Linked DNA regions of Homo sapiens. The protein of the gene in region 1 interacts with the protein of each later gene in a biochemical or structural test. Each region holds a gene or a part of one and is shown on either strand. Other genes may lie near its edges.

Region 1 (7,344 bases):
AACATGGTGAAACCCCATCTCTACTAAAAATACAAAAATTAGCTGGGCATGGTGGCACATGCCTGTTTAATCCCAGCTACTAGGGAGGCTGAGGCAGGAGAATCACTTGAACCAGGGAGTCGGAGGTTGCAGTGAGCGGAGATCACGCCACTGCACTCCAGCCTGGCGACAGAGCAAGACTCCATCTAAAAAAAAAAAAGTAACCTAAAAGACTGGTTCAGACCATGAACAAAAGTGAGGGTCTGGGCCATGCCTCATTATACCTCTCCGGCATTAACATCAACACAGACCTTAAGTCTGATAAGAGGCATTTACAATCTATTCTCTCCGTAGCCTGCTACCTGAAGGCTTCCTCTGCACAATAAGAACTTTGGTCTTCACAATCCTTTAACCCAGACATTTGCTTTCTATTGATCCCAGGTCTTTAGATAAACTCAACCAATTGTCAACCAGAAAATTTTTAAATCTGCATATAACCTGGAGGGCCCCCCACCCCCACCCTGTGCCTGGCTTCAAGTTGTTCCGTGTTTCTGAACTGAACCAATGTATTTCTTAAATTGTGAACCGAACCAATGTACTTCTTAAATGTATTTGATTGAAGTCTCATGTCTCCCTAAAATGTACAAAACTAAGCTGCACCTCAACCACCTTGGGCACCTGTTCTCAGGACCTCCTGAGGGCTGTGTCATGGGCCATGGTCACTCATATTTGGCTCTTAATGAATCTCTTCAAATATTTTACAGAGTTTGACTCTTTTTGTCAACAACACTATGAAGGGATTTGAGGGAAGGAAATAGCGGGGCTCACCTTTGTGACAGGGATCTTCTGGGGGAAAACCCATGGTCACCCCAGTAGACTCCAGAAGTAGTACATCCTTGTTCCAGATCTGGCCCATAGTTTATATTTGCAAGACTCTTGACTAGCAGGACACAAAGAGCCACCTAATGGGTTTGACACAACCACCAAGACCAGAGAATAATGCATAAAGCTGGAATGTCAATTTGCTACTGCTATACAGTAGGAGTTGGATATTTAGGTTCACTGATCTCCACTTCTATCTATGAAGACAAATCCACAGGGAAAGAAGTCCCAAATCACCAAGAGGTTGTTTGGACCCTAACCTCTAAACAATGGGTTTGTGTTGGATGAGTTTAATGAGAATGAGCTTAATGAGGGGGAAAAAAGCAGGCTAGCAGGCTATCACCAACTTAAAATAGCAGGTTCTCTCCTACAGAGATAGAGACCCTCGTTAGTCCCAGCCCATCCACAGATATAGTTGTATTAGTTTCCAAGGATTGCTTTAGAGTTTCCGAGGAAGTACAAAAACTGAGTGGCTTAAAACAACAGAAATTTATTACCTGACAGTTCTGGAAGCAAGAGGTCCCAAATTGAGGTGTAGGCAGAGTAATGCTTTTTCTGAAACCTACAAGGGAGAACCCTTTCTTGTCTCTTCTAGATTTGGATGTCTGCTGGCAATCCTTGGAGTTCCCTGGTTTGCAGGTGCTTCCCTCCAGTCTCCACCTTTGTTGGCAAGTGGCTCTTTTCTCCTCGTGTATCTCCCCTTCTCATAAGGACACCAGCTACGCTGGATGATGATCTCATAACTAAACTAACCTGCAACAAACCTATTTCCAAATAGGGTCATTAAGGTCATATTCTTTTTTTTTTTTTTTTTTTTTTTGAGTCTGAGTATCTCTCTGTTGCCCAGGCTGGAGTGTAGTGGCTCAATCTCCACTCACTGCAACCTTCACCCTGCCAGGTTCAAGCGATTCTCCCACCTCTGCCTCCAGTAGCTGGGATTACAGGCATGTGCCACCACACTCGGCTAATTTTTGTGTTTTTCTTTTTCTTTTCTTTTTTTCTTTCTTTTTTTTTGAGACGGAGTTTCACTCTTGTTGCCCAGGCTGGAGTGCAATGGCACAATCTCGGTTCACTGCAACCTCCCCCTCCCGGGTTCAAGTGATTCTCCTGCCTCGGCCTCTCGAATAGCTGGGATTACAGGCATGCACCACCACACCCGGCTAATTTTGTATTTTTAGTAGAGACGGCGTTTCTCCATGTTGGGCAGGCTGGTCTCGAACACCCGACCTCAGGTGATCCGCCCACCTCAGCCTCCCAAAGTGCTGGGATTACAGATGTGAGCCACCACGCCTGGTTAATTTTTGTATTTTTAGCAGAGATGGGGTTTCACCATATTGCCCAGGCTGGTCTCGAACTCCTGGCCTCAAGCGATCCACCAGTCTCGGCCTCCCAAAGTGCTGGGATTGCGGGTGTGAGCCACTGCACCCGGCCCAAATAGGGTCATATTCTGAAGCACTGGAAGTTAGGGCTTCAACATATCTTTGAGGGGGACACATTGCAACCCATACAGTATTCTTGGAACTGTAAATCGCGTTTTTGTACTAGAAATTCACTGCCCCTTTAGGCACTATGTATTCCTCTAATCTTATTTGTTACTCTTTTACGACTTTAAGAAATACAGAATTTGGTCAGTTTTAGCTGAGAGAGTAAACTTTGATGACTTGCATCAAACAGGGACTGGCACACAACTCCTGGAATTTCCAGTAAGAGAATGTGAATGGGGGACAGTTGCCGACTAGGTGCCTGAAAGATCATTTTTCAAGAAACACGTCAACAAACTTTGAGGGATACATGATAATTAAAAAACTAGCTTCAACCCGGGAGGCGGAGGTTGCAGTGAGCTGAGCCAAGATCGTGCCAGTGCGCTCCAGACTGTGCGACAGAGTGAGACTCCGTCTCAAACAAACAAACAACTAGCCCTTATAATCTTTTTTTTTTTTTTTTAGACAGGTGCATCTTTACACAGTTAAATTTCACTACTTCTTTTTTTGCAGATAAAAACTCAGGAGTTGAGAAATGAATAAACATAATAATAAATATGAGAAAACCATCATGATTTATCAAGCCTGGATAAATAATTTAATAAGTTCAGCATAGAAGACCTTGCTTTTTTTTCTTTCCTCCTTTTCTTCTTCTTTTTTTTTAACTTATTTATTTCAATAGGTTTTTGGGGAGCAGGTGGTGTTTGGTTACATGAATAAGTTCTTTAGTGGTGATTTGAGAGTTTGGTGCACCCATCACCTAGGCAGTGGACACTGCACCCAATGTGTAGTCGTTTATCCCTCACCTACTCTCACCCTAGCCCTTATAATCTTAAGATTTTTGGCTATTTAGGGCCATCTCATTCCTCCCTCCCTTCTTTGTTGCATTCTCTCTCACCTACTCCATTCCCCCCACCTTCCAAGTAAGACCATCTTTGGTAAGATGGTCTTGGTAAGAATGTGATACGCATTATAATAATTTTTCAAATCTTCAAAATTGAGGTATAATTACATACAATAAAATGAGAATGGCATGCAAATTTGTGCCTTTTTTAAAGCTTAGTAAATGTCATAATTTGGTTATAGTTTTTATTTTTCTGGATGCATTTGCTTTTCCTTACATCTACCATGCTCAGCCTTACAGAGATTTTTCTAGATGAATTTGCTTTTTCTCACATCTACCATGCTCGGCCTTACAGAGCTGCCCTTTATTTTAGAATTCCCTAAAGTGCTGTGTTGTACACAGGGAGCTTCTCCTGACTGGAACAACCTTACCTGGTACCACTCTTCCTTCAGGACCCAGATTCTTCTTTGAAACCTTTCCCTGGCCCCTTTGAATACTCTAGCTCTTTTAAAATGTATGTGGTTCTTTTTTCCCTGTTCAATTATTAATCTAACTAGGTTGTGAGTTCCTCCTCCAAGGACGTGAGGGTGCGATGTAGCTTGTCTGATTTTGCATTCCAAGTGTGTGCCCCAATGCCTGACACATAGTAGGTGCTCAATATATGTTTACTGTCAATAAGTTACAATTAACACCCCCATATGGTAATTCAGAGTTTTCATAGCGCGGTCAAACGATCTCATTTAACGCCTACTACAACCCTAAAAAATTCTAATTACTACCATCCTATCATTCTTGTTTGTAGAGTGTGGAGACTGAGAGGTTAACTGTCTTGCCCAGCGCAAGTCAACAGCAAAACGGAACTAAAATTTCAGGCTCGACACCACACAGCGTGTCGAGATCAGCACGAACTTGGCGCTGTGACTTTTCCTTAGAGGGGCCACTTAGGCTTACACTTCCGGATCCTGGGCACACAGAGACGCGAAAAGCTCCCGCGGGAAACTGGGGAGCGGGACTACATCTCCCAGAGAGCCCCGGGGCTAAACAGCAGGTGATTGGTTGATATTGACAGCCAATGCGGCTGCGAGGAGCTCGGGCAGACCAATCACAGGCCGGAAGGGGCGGGACCTCCCACGCCGAGGATAGATTGAGCGCAGAACTAACCGCGCTCTGAAAGGTTCTAAATGTCTGCGGGGCTCAGAGCCGGATGTCACGTCGTCCTCCTCTGCCGGTTTTCTCTTGGGTCCTTTTCCGTGCCGTCCCGCGACTCCGCCTCTGGCCGCGCGTGTCTGGCTGCTAGGCCGACACCAAGGACTGGCCGGGTACCCGGGAAGAAAGCACGTGCTCCAGCAGTTGCCGCGCCCAGCCCCGAGAGAGGCCCTAGGGCGCTGCGGGCTTTCGGGGTCCGCAGTCCCCCCGCGACGCGAGCCAACGGGAGGCGTCAAAAGACCCGGGCCTTGTGTGGCAGGCTCGCCTGGCGCTGGCTGGCGTGGCCCTTGGCCGTCGTCACCTGTGGAGAGCACGTCTTCTCTGCCGCGCCCTCTGCGCAAGGAGGAGACTCGACAACATGTCACCCGCGCTCCAAGACCTGTCGCAACCCGGTAACGCTGCGACCCCGTCTGCGTGGTTGGGTTGTGTTTCTTAACTCGTGCTGTGGCCTCCTAATCCCTGGGGCGATTCCCTTCTGCGGCGGGAGACGCCCGGCGGTGTTTCCCCGCGTGTGGGCGGCACCTTTAGAACTTAGCGCAGGAGCCCGGAGGGCTACGTGTTTTGCTCCACTCTTTGTCCGACCTTCACCTCTTTCTCCCCAGGCAAGCCATCAAAACCTGCAAAAAGCGTCCTCCCCTCGCCCCCGAAACACATTCTTAACGTCACAGTAACTAAACTTTCCAGTTCCACGCAGCATAAACCAGCTGGGCCCTCTGGAAGTTTTTTTTTTTGCATGGTGTGACGCTTATTCGTAAATATGTATTGCGCACCTACTGCGAAAGAAAGTTCAGGCGCGGAGAGACAGACGAGGAAACTCAGAGAACTATTTAAAACTACTACATGGAACTTTTTATTTTCTGCTTCTACGCACGCTGCTGCAAAACTGCAATATGCATAGACTCACTATGTTAAAATAGATGAGCAGACCCCACCTCCAGATACCGAAATGGGAGGTAGTAATTTCAAGCGATTCTGATGTTGGTGGCCCTGGGATCAACAGTGAGAAAAAGCTAGTTTAGCACGAGAACTGAACGTAATGTTAGCTTTATAACGAGCTCTAGATCTCTAAGGTCATGCCTGATTATAATTTGAGGACAAATACACCCGTAAAAACGGGTGAGGAGATGTAGAAACGAGAATTAGTGATAAGTACAAAACAGTAAATATCCTATCACATAGTGGGGATGTTTAGCTTCAGGAAGAGGGGGAATACTAAATTCGTAACGCACAAGGAAATTTATCAGAGGTTAACCGGTGACTCTCTTGATTCTTGGGTTCTGATAACGGGACTGATATAATTGTTCTTGAAACTAGTGGAACTGTGGCTGAGAAACACATCACTGCTGTTATTAAATAAGATATAAACCTCCCTATGAGAGGTTTATATGTTATTTAATATATTAAATAAGATGTAATGAGGTTACATCTTATTTATATTTAATATTTAATTAATAAATGTAAACCTCCCTATAAGAGATTTATATCTTATTGAATAAATGATCATAGGGAGATCATATTTATTTGGAAAACATCTTTTACTCATGATTTCTGGCCTCCCCCTTCCCATTTAATTTAAACAAGTAAAGTTATTTCCCTTTCATCTGAATTTAGGTGTCATTATCAGGAGCAAAATGCCACTGAAGACTTAAAATACTGTGAATAGTGAGTGATTTAAAAAAAAAAAATAAACTGAAAGGAAAATTGTTGAATGTTTGAATCTTGCCTAGTCCCCTCACCCCCAAGGCTGGCTTCTAGAGTTGAGCACTGAGTGGAGTTTAACCAAGTCTAGGGCCTCTGAAGTTCTGAATCAGGCCATTGTGCCTAGAAAAGACCTTAGATGTAGTCCAGCTTCTGTCTATGTGAGCAACTTTTATTGGGATTAGAATCAGGTTTTAACTTCCTAATAACCCTTAGTAATTTACTGGCGTACAATCTTAATGAAATTTTAATGGAGAGCTGGGAATTCCTGATTCTCAAGGTTGGGCCTTAAAACTAAATGTGACTTCAGACCATGGTTGTGTGCCCTGGGGAAGGAGGATGGTGGGCTAGCAAATACATCTTGGGAGAAAATTTTAACTACAGCTTCTAAAAGTTTCTTGGTTTCATCCTTGCTTAGGACTGTGAGTGTTATTTGGAACTCAATTGATGAGTGATTAATGAAGGAATGAATAATCCAGTGAATTGGTATCAATTGATGAGTGATTAATGAAGGAATGAATAATCCAGTGAATTGGTATCAGCCTAATTCTTCTCCGGCTTATTAAAATCAAAGGGGGAAATAATATATATTAAAAATGGAATACTGCACAAGCAAAGAGATGCCCCCAAAGAAGCTGGGCGCGGTGGCTCATATCTGTAATCCCAGCACTTTGGGAGGCCGAGGCGTGCGGGTCACCTGAGGTCAGGAGTTCGAGACCAGCCTGGCCAACATGGTGAAACCCCATCTGTACTAAAAATACAAAAATTAGCTGGGTTTATAGTGAGCGCCTATAACCCCAGCTACTCAGGAGGCTGAGGCAGGAGAATCGCTTGAACCCTGGAGGCTGAGGTTGCAGTGAGCCGAGATCATGCCACTGCACTCCATCCTGGGTGAGAGAGTGAGACTTAGTCTCCAAAAAAAAACAAAACAAAACAAAACAAAACCAAAAAAACAAAGTGTAGCAAGTCTGTGCAAACTAGAAATTAGAGATCCAAAAATGAAAGAGAGAAGTATCTTGCAAGTGACTTGTAGGGCAGTAGTAAGATTGTTTTTAATAAAGCAAAGAAAGAACAGTGCTGAGAAAGCCTTGGGATCATTTGATTATAATGCAGAAAATAAAAATGTGCTTTTGCTGTATGTGTTCCCCATTTAGCACAGTGGAAAGAGGGGTCCTAAGTAAGTCAGATCTATTTGGGGTCATTTTACCTTCAGAGCAGATGTGTTCTTGACACTGCAATTTATAACTTACATGC
Region 2 (7,037 bases), on another chromosome or scaffold:
TAATAGGAAAAGAATTTTTAAAAATAACCTAGGCCAATGCTTCTCAAAAACTACATTTACACTCAGTTTTCATGTCCACAAATGTCCAATAATTAGAACATCCATTATCTTCTTATTCAGTGCAATTAACATGAAAGTTAAGAAACTACCAATACCAGCGTATGCCTGTGTTCCCAGACCTTGATGCGCAGCTGAGCCCCAGGCATCTGTGCGGCCAACACACAGGACCCTGAACCTTAGAGCCACACTCTCACCATCAGCTCCAGTCCACTGGCCCACAACACCCCAACGTCACAGCATCAGGGCTGTTACCTTTCTTCTTTGTGTCTGCCTTTATTTTCAAAAGGACGCAGTGCTCTCTTTTATCTTCAAGCTGCAGTCTTTGGAGTAGGCTTTGTACCTCAGAATCACTGTTAGGGCAGATCACGCTGAAGGCATCTCCAGGCTGATAGGAAAAGTCTGTATTCTAGAGAAGAGCCAAAATGAAAAAAAAAAAATACATTATACGTGTTACATAGTTTAAGCTGTAGGGTAACAAAAATATAGTTTTCAATATTATGATTTTAATATGTGAACTCAGAAAATAGAATTTCAAAAAAAAAAACACACAATTGTTTTAAAAAATAAGCCCAACTAACCAAATAAACATACTTTCATTATTAGCAGTTACTATTAAAACGAAATCTGGTAGTTACCCAGTGTTTTGCCTTTTATCATACTTAAAGAATGGAAGTCAGACCTTCCTTGTTCTCTACAAAGTAAGGTCCTATGGTGTTTTCAATAACCCATGTAAATATAAAAATCCCTCTTACAAAAACATACATGCACACACACACGAAAACATACATTATGACCAAAAGAAACTAATTATGGTCAAATGCATTGGTTTTCAATTTTCTTCTCCTTACTTTACTCTTTTCCTTTAGGGGACAGGAAAGGGTACTTTATTTCCTTAAGTATAAAACATTACACTATCTGGCTCGATACTGGTTGTGAGCAAACATGGGCTGAAAAAGTCACCACTTCCCAAGTCAAGTCTATTACTAGGCCCATTGCCTCTAAGCCCCAGAGTGATACAGATGCAGGCCAGGGCTCTGGGGAGGAGCCTCTCACAATGACACAAGCTCACATTTCTTGCCAGCAAGGGAGAGAGACTGGACTAAGCACAGACCAACCCTTGCCTCTTTATGACAAAAATGTAAAATACCAGAATAAAAAATATTTTGGTGTACATAGTATTAATATTTATGGATGCAAAACCATCTAGTTTTGACACATTGTATTTTTTTCTGTTAGGAAGTTTGATTAAATCTACACCAACAGCCTTAATGTGCCCTTGCTTTTCTGAAAGAATAACCCACTTAACCTCTCAAGACTTTCATAAAATAAACGGTTGAGCTAAATGACTTTGAAGAGGTACTCAAACACTTATTTTAGGATTATCAGTCAGTTTCTTAACCTAAGGTCAATGGATTCCAGCAGGGTGTGGAGGGTAGGAAGGGGGCCCATGGAGGGGGTGCATCGAGGCACATCTCAGACTAAAACTGTACGTAAATGTTTCTATATACAGTTGGCCCTCCATATCCTCAGGTTCTCCACCCTCAGAATCAACCAAACCTGAATGGAAAATATTTGGGACGGAAAAAAACAATAAAAAATAACAATAAAAATAATGTAAACTTAAAAATACAGTATAGCAACTACTTACGTGGTGTTAGATACTGTAAGTAATCTACAGATGACTTAAAGTGTAGGGGAGGATGTGCATAGATTATATACAAATACTGTAACATTTTACATAAGGGACTTGAGCTTTGAGGATTTGGGTATCTGAAAGGGGTCCTGGGACAAATCCTTCGAAGATACTAAGGGACAAGTGTAATCATTTTTTGGGAGAGTCCATAATTTTTTCCAGATTCTCAAGAAATCAAAACCACTGCTCTGAGGAATTAACCCTAACCTGCCTGTCTGGGTTCTATTTCTTTTCTTTTTTTAAAAAAATTGAGGCAGGGTCTCACTCTGTCACCCAGGCTGGAGTGCAGTGGCACAATTACAGCCCACTGTAGTCTCAACCTCCCAGGCTCAAGCAGTCCTCCCACCTCAGCCTCCCAAGTAGCTGGGACCATCGGTACACACCACCATGCCCAGCTACTTATTGTATTTTTTTGTAGAGACAAGGTCTTGCCATGTTACCCAGGAACTCCTGGGTTCAAGTGACCGCCTTCAGCCTCCCAAAGTGCTGGGATTATAGGCGAGAGCCACCTCGTTTGACCTTAGGCTCTATTTCTAACTTCCTGGCTGACCTTAGTGGACAGCTTCCTTTCCTGGGCCTCTTATATATAAAATGCTGTTCTGATCCCATTATTCTTTCATGGCTTATTGAGTAAGCCAGCATCTTCCTCTCAGGCTGAATCTCCTCCAGCCATTCTTCCCTAGTCCTTCCCTGAAGTGGAAAGAAAATAGGTGTGAAAATAGAAGAGAGAAAAAAATGATGGGTCAGGAATAAAATGGCAAGATGTCCTGTCAGAGACCTCTCATTCTTCTGAGCATGTATAACCAAGCACCACACAACTCAGCATACATAACCAAGCACCACACAACTCAGCATATGTAACCAAGCACCACACAACTCAGCATATGTAACCAAGCACCACACAACTCAGCATATGTAACCAAGCACCACACAACTCAGCATATGTAACCAAGCACCACACAACTCAGCATATGTAACCAAGCACCACACAACTCAGCACATGTAACCAAGCCGCACACAACTCAGCATATGTAACCAAGCAGCACACCACTCAGCATATATAACCAAGCACCACACAACTCTTTCTGCACATCCTGACAATATTACTGTGCTGAGAAATAAATTTTGCAACTTACTGAAATGTCCAATTCTACCAGCAGAGTGGTTTTTATGGCATCATTCGTAGTAAGTTGAACTGCCTTTGAAATTGGCACTTGAAAAACTGGATCTGCTGAAGTCACAGATACTTGGCTTTCCTCCTTGAAAAACAAATGTGACAAAACGTAAGTGCAATTTTCAATTATACCCTTCTTTCAATTAGTGACTACGCAAGATCCACAGGGGCTTACAAAACTTCCTGGCTACTCAGTATTCATTTCCAAGGTAAATGAATGAGGGCAGATATATGGAGCTAGCTTTTCAGAAGAGAAGCTCAATTCTATCTCAAACGCTTTATCTATTAGACATTAGAATTTCTGAAATACAAATAGAAAATAAAAATACTGGCATGTTCATGTAAAGATCTAGTAGTTTTCCTAATAAACTACGTCAAGGGAAACAGAATGTCTGCAAATGTTTCAGGAAGGAGAGATCTTGAAGAATGTGACAGATGTTTAAGAATGCAACATGTGTGTAGATGGTCACAGGAACCCCCTAGTGTGGGGCAATGCTGTTCATATGGCTGCTGAAATATGGCTGGTGAAATACAGGTAGTGTCACTAAGAAACTAATTATTAATCTTAACAAATGTTCATTAATTTAAATTTGAGTAGCTATATGTGGCCAGCAGCTCCTGTACTGGACACAGTAGGTCTTGGAAAACTGCAAAAAATCCCAGTTCTTTATAATACTCCCTACTCCTTTTCTATATTCCTAAGTTTAAAAACAAAATATTTTAACAGTACTAGTCAATTAACTGTGGATAAGTGGCTATATGGGAAAGCTGGGATGAAGGTCAGTTCTGGGTGTCTGGGAGCCATAATGTGGGGGTACTGAGATGTACCCCTAAGAAGACTGCCTTCTGCAAAGGCTATGGCAGTGCTGACAATGACTACCTCTGCCACCTGAAAGAAACACTTCAGCATTCTTAGGTCACACCTTACCCCTGCCCACACCTCCTTTCAGAGGCAACCCACATCCAATGTCTCATCAAAGACTACAAAGGTCCAGCCTCTTCGTTCCAACTCAGGACAACTCTGAAGACCCACCAGCTCCAGAGAACCCTGTGGGATTGGCTGAGGCCTTTGCTGAGACTGCACAGCAGCTCAGCTTCTCACTGTGCCCAATCCTGCTTCCATCCCTCCATGCCCAAAGATGATGCTGTCAAGAGGATGCCCTAAAAACATCTCATTGTTTGACTCCTGGGAACCAGCCTGTGACAGTCAGTGCCAGGGTAGCCTGGGAAAGATGCTAAAATGGAGTCTAGAGCTGGATCATCTGCCTGTTTGACAATGAGAACACCACACCAGTGAGAGAGCAGACAGACGGCACTGGCACACAGCAACAATGCAACCGTAAGTAGCAGGGAGTGCCAGTGGAAGCAAATGCATCACCTTGCAAGATCCATCAGGTGCTTGAGAACTAGAGAGAAACAGCAGAAGAGAAGACTGGTGGGACTTGGGGGGCTACTGCTAAAATTCACTCGCACTTGAAAAAAAATGCAAAAAGCTTAAAGGACAAATCACCAATTAAGAACTAAGTAAAACTAAAATAGAACTAAGCCAGGGGACATCCTCAGGAGCTTAGAAAGACACAGTCATCTCATGCAGCCCATGACAGTGAAGGCAGAGAAAGCCAAGGACTAACTGGGAAAAAAAATCTTGAATACTCAGATTCCCTTAAAAATCTTGACTACCCAGAACGCCTTAAAAATCTTGACTACCCAGATTCCCTTAAAAATCTTCCTACCCAGATTCCCTTGAACTCTTTGAGCCTGCAGATGTGGCCAGTCCCTCCCATGAAGAGTAAGAACTCCCTTCTCGCATCTGGATGGTGTAAGGACCTCTGCCCACAGCACATGCCTGTACCCCCACTACCACACCCCATCCCCTCTTCTGGTTGCTAGACCAATAACTGGGGTTGTTGCGACACACTCGGCCACTAAAGCACTGGGCTAGCTAAGGAAGGTAAGGGACTAACCCCTAAGAAAGTATACGACAGAGCACTATGCCCCCACAGGAGCTAGGAGAGAATGCACACAACACAGCTGAGGTCCTAAATTGAGGAGGGCAGAACACAGATGTAAAAAATGGGCAGCCCACAAAGGCACTGGATCAATCCTTACAATGAAAAGAAATCAAGGAGGCATGTAAAAGGAGCTGTAGGCCGCTGCTCCAATAAAAACGATCCTTTGCCCTGTTTCCAGACCTGCAACCCACTGACTGTAGGAGAGAAGAGGTCCCTAGGAGGAGGGACTGTGAGACACTATAGAAACTGTACTTGACAATGGCTTCTGCAGTCCTTCTCCCAAAGGGGAAATGTACACTGGGCTAAGGGGAATGTGCAAACATTCCAGGGTCTGTTAAGAGGGGGTTCAAATGAATGTTGTTACCCAGGGACCCAAAGCATCAGCATAGCTCATCTATGACAGCAAGGCACATGGGGGCCAGGCGGTAAATGGCGTCCTGGCCCAGGACCTCCAGTGGCCACTCAGCAGCTGGCACAGGGCAACACCGAATTATTGGCCTATGACGTTAAGATCTATCATCATGGGGAGGGCCAAGAAGAAGTCTCTGAATTTGACGCCATCCTCCTCCCTAAACACCAAGATAGAACAAGAGAAACAAAATAGCATCCTGAGAGAAATGACATCCTTAAAAAGCTGGAGGACACAGGGGATGGTCTCTATCGTATCTCCATTTAATTCACCAGTTTGACCACTGCAAAAACCACATAAATCCTGGGGGATGACACTGAACTACTGGAAACTCAAACAAGAAACAGGTCCACTGTAACCTCCGTGCAAGCTGGTTTTCCTTAACAAAGTAGACTAGCATGGCCTCAGGTACACGGACAATGATTTAGTCAAAGTGCTCCTTCCCAACCCTATCACTAAAGAGGATCAGAAACAGTTCACTTTGCGCTGGAACAATGTATAAATTTACAATTATGCCCCAGGGCTATCATAAGTCCTGCCTGCTGTTATAAGAGTCTGAATAAATGTGGAACACCTGCAAAGCACCACACTAGCCTACTCTATCAGGGGCATCGTGCTATCAGACTGAATGAGCAACGAGGAGTAGCCAGGACAGTGCGGTCTTTGGTAAGACCCATGCCCTATGCAATTAAAGGGCCTGCAGTGCCAGCACAATTTTTAGGGTTCTAACAGTTTGGTGCACGTCAGGACATCCCCTCCCAAGTGAAGGCCACACTAGTGCACCTTGTACCTCACTTCTAGAGAGAAGCAGAACCACTGCTAAGTCTCTTCAGGATCTGTGGGTAGCACATTCCATACCTGGGAGGACTGCTGAGACCCAAATACCAGGTGACAGAAAAGGCCACCAGCTTTGCGTGGGGCCCAGAGCAGGAGAGGGCTCTACAGCAGATCCAAGTGACAGTGCTCGTTAACAGGTCCTGCCGCTCTACCACACAACCCAGAAGACCCTCTGGTTATTAGAGGTAATACTTCCACATGGCAGAAAGGTACCATATGGAGAGGAGCTGACTGAGGCCTTTGTTGAGACTGCATCGCAGCTCAGCTTCTCACTGTGCCCAATCCTGCTTCCAACCCCTCTGTGCCTCAAGGCAATGGTCCCAAGAGGATGCCCTACAAAACATTCTTTTTTTCCCAATTCTTTACTCTCTCAGTATATTATTTCATATTTATATTGTCTCTCTTAAGTACTTCAGATTTGTTAAATCTTTTAACTACATTATTAACAACTCAAGCCTATTTAATGACACTTTCTATTAAGAAAAAACCCAGAAACTTTTTTTTTTTTTTTTTTTTTTTGAGACGGAGTCTTACTCTGTCGCTCAGGCTGGAGTGCAGTGGCGCAATCTTGGCTCACTGCAACCTCCGCCTCCCGGAAAAAACCCATAAACTCTTAACAGATCTTCCGGCTAATTTAAAACTCCTAGTCAGATTAATGATTAATCTCTATCCCCGCTGCCATGAACTGATCCTGTCTGTGGTGCAACACTGCACTCTGCTCCCACCAGTCCAGGCATAAGTTGTGTCTGTTCCCAAACCAGACTGAGATACACTTACTGCAATTATCTCACTTAAACAATTCACAAAATAATGAAGTACAAGTGCAAAAACAATAGCCCATAGTTGTTTATA

The links. Proteins that work in one complex are often made in the same cells at the same time.
Region 2: the proteins of MTR (region 1) and MTRR are reported together in a solved structure, tested with the Homo sapiens proteins (one study listed by BioGRID).

The regions. Positions count from the first base shown.
Region 1 is NC_000001.11:236,790,954-236,798,297, forward strand, and holds the start of MTR (methionine synthase), read left to right. Parts: upstream 1-4,338; 5' UTR 4,339-4,367; coding exon of another isoform or gene 4,368-4,750; coding exon 4,751-4,784; intron 4,785-7,344. UniProt on the Homo sapiens protein: Catalyzes the transfer of a methyl group from methylcob(III)alamin (MeCbl) to homocysteine, yielding enzyme-bound cob(I)alamin and methionine in the cytosol. MeCbl is an active form of cobalamin (vitamin B12) used as a cofactor for methionine biosynthesis.
Region 2 is NC_000005.10:7,879,130-7,886,166, reverse strand, and holds part of MTRR (methionine synthase reductase), read right to left. Parts: intron 3,013-7,037; coding exon 2,890-3,012; intron 2,444-2,889; coding exon of another isoform or gene 2,304-2,443; intron 467-2,303; coding exon 313-466; intron 1-312. UniProt on the Homo sapiens protein: Key enzyme in methionine and folate homeostasis responsible for the reactivation of methionine synthase (MTR/MS) activity by catalyzing the reductive methylation of MTR-bound cob(II)alamin.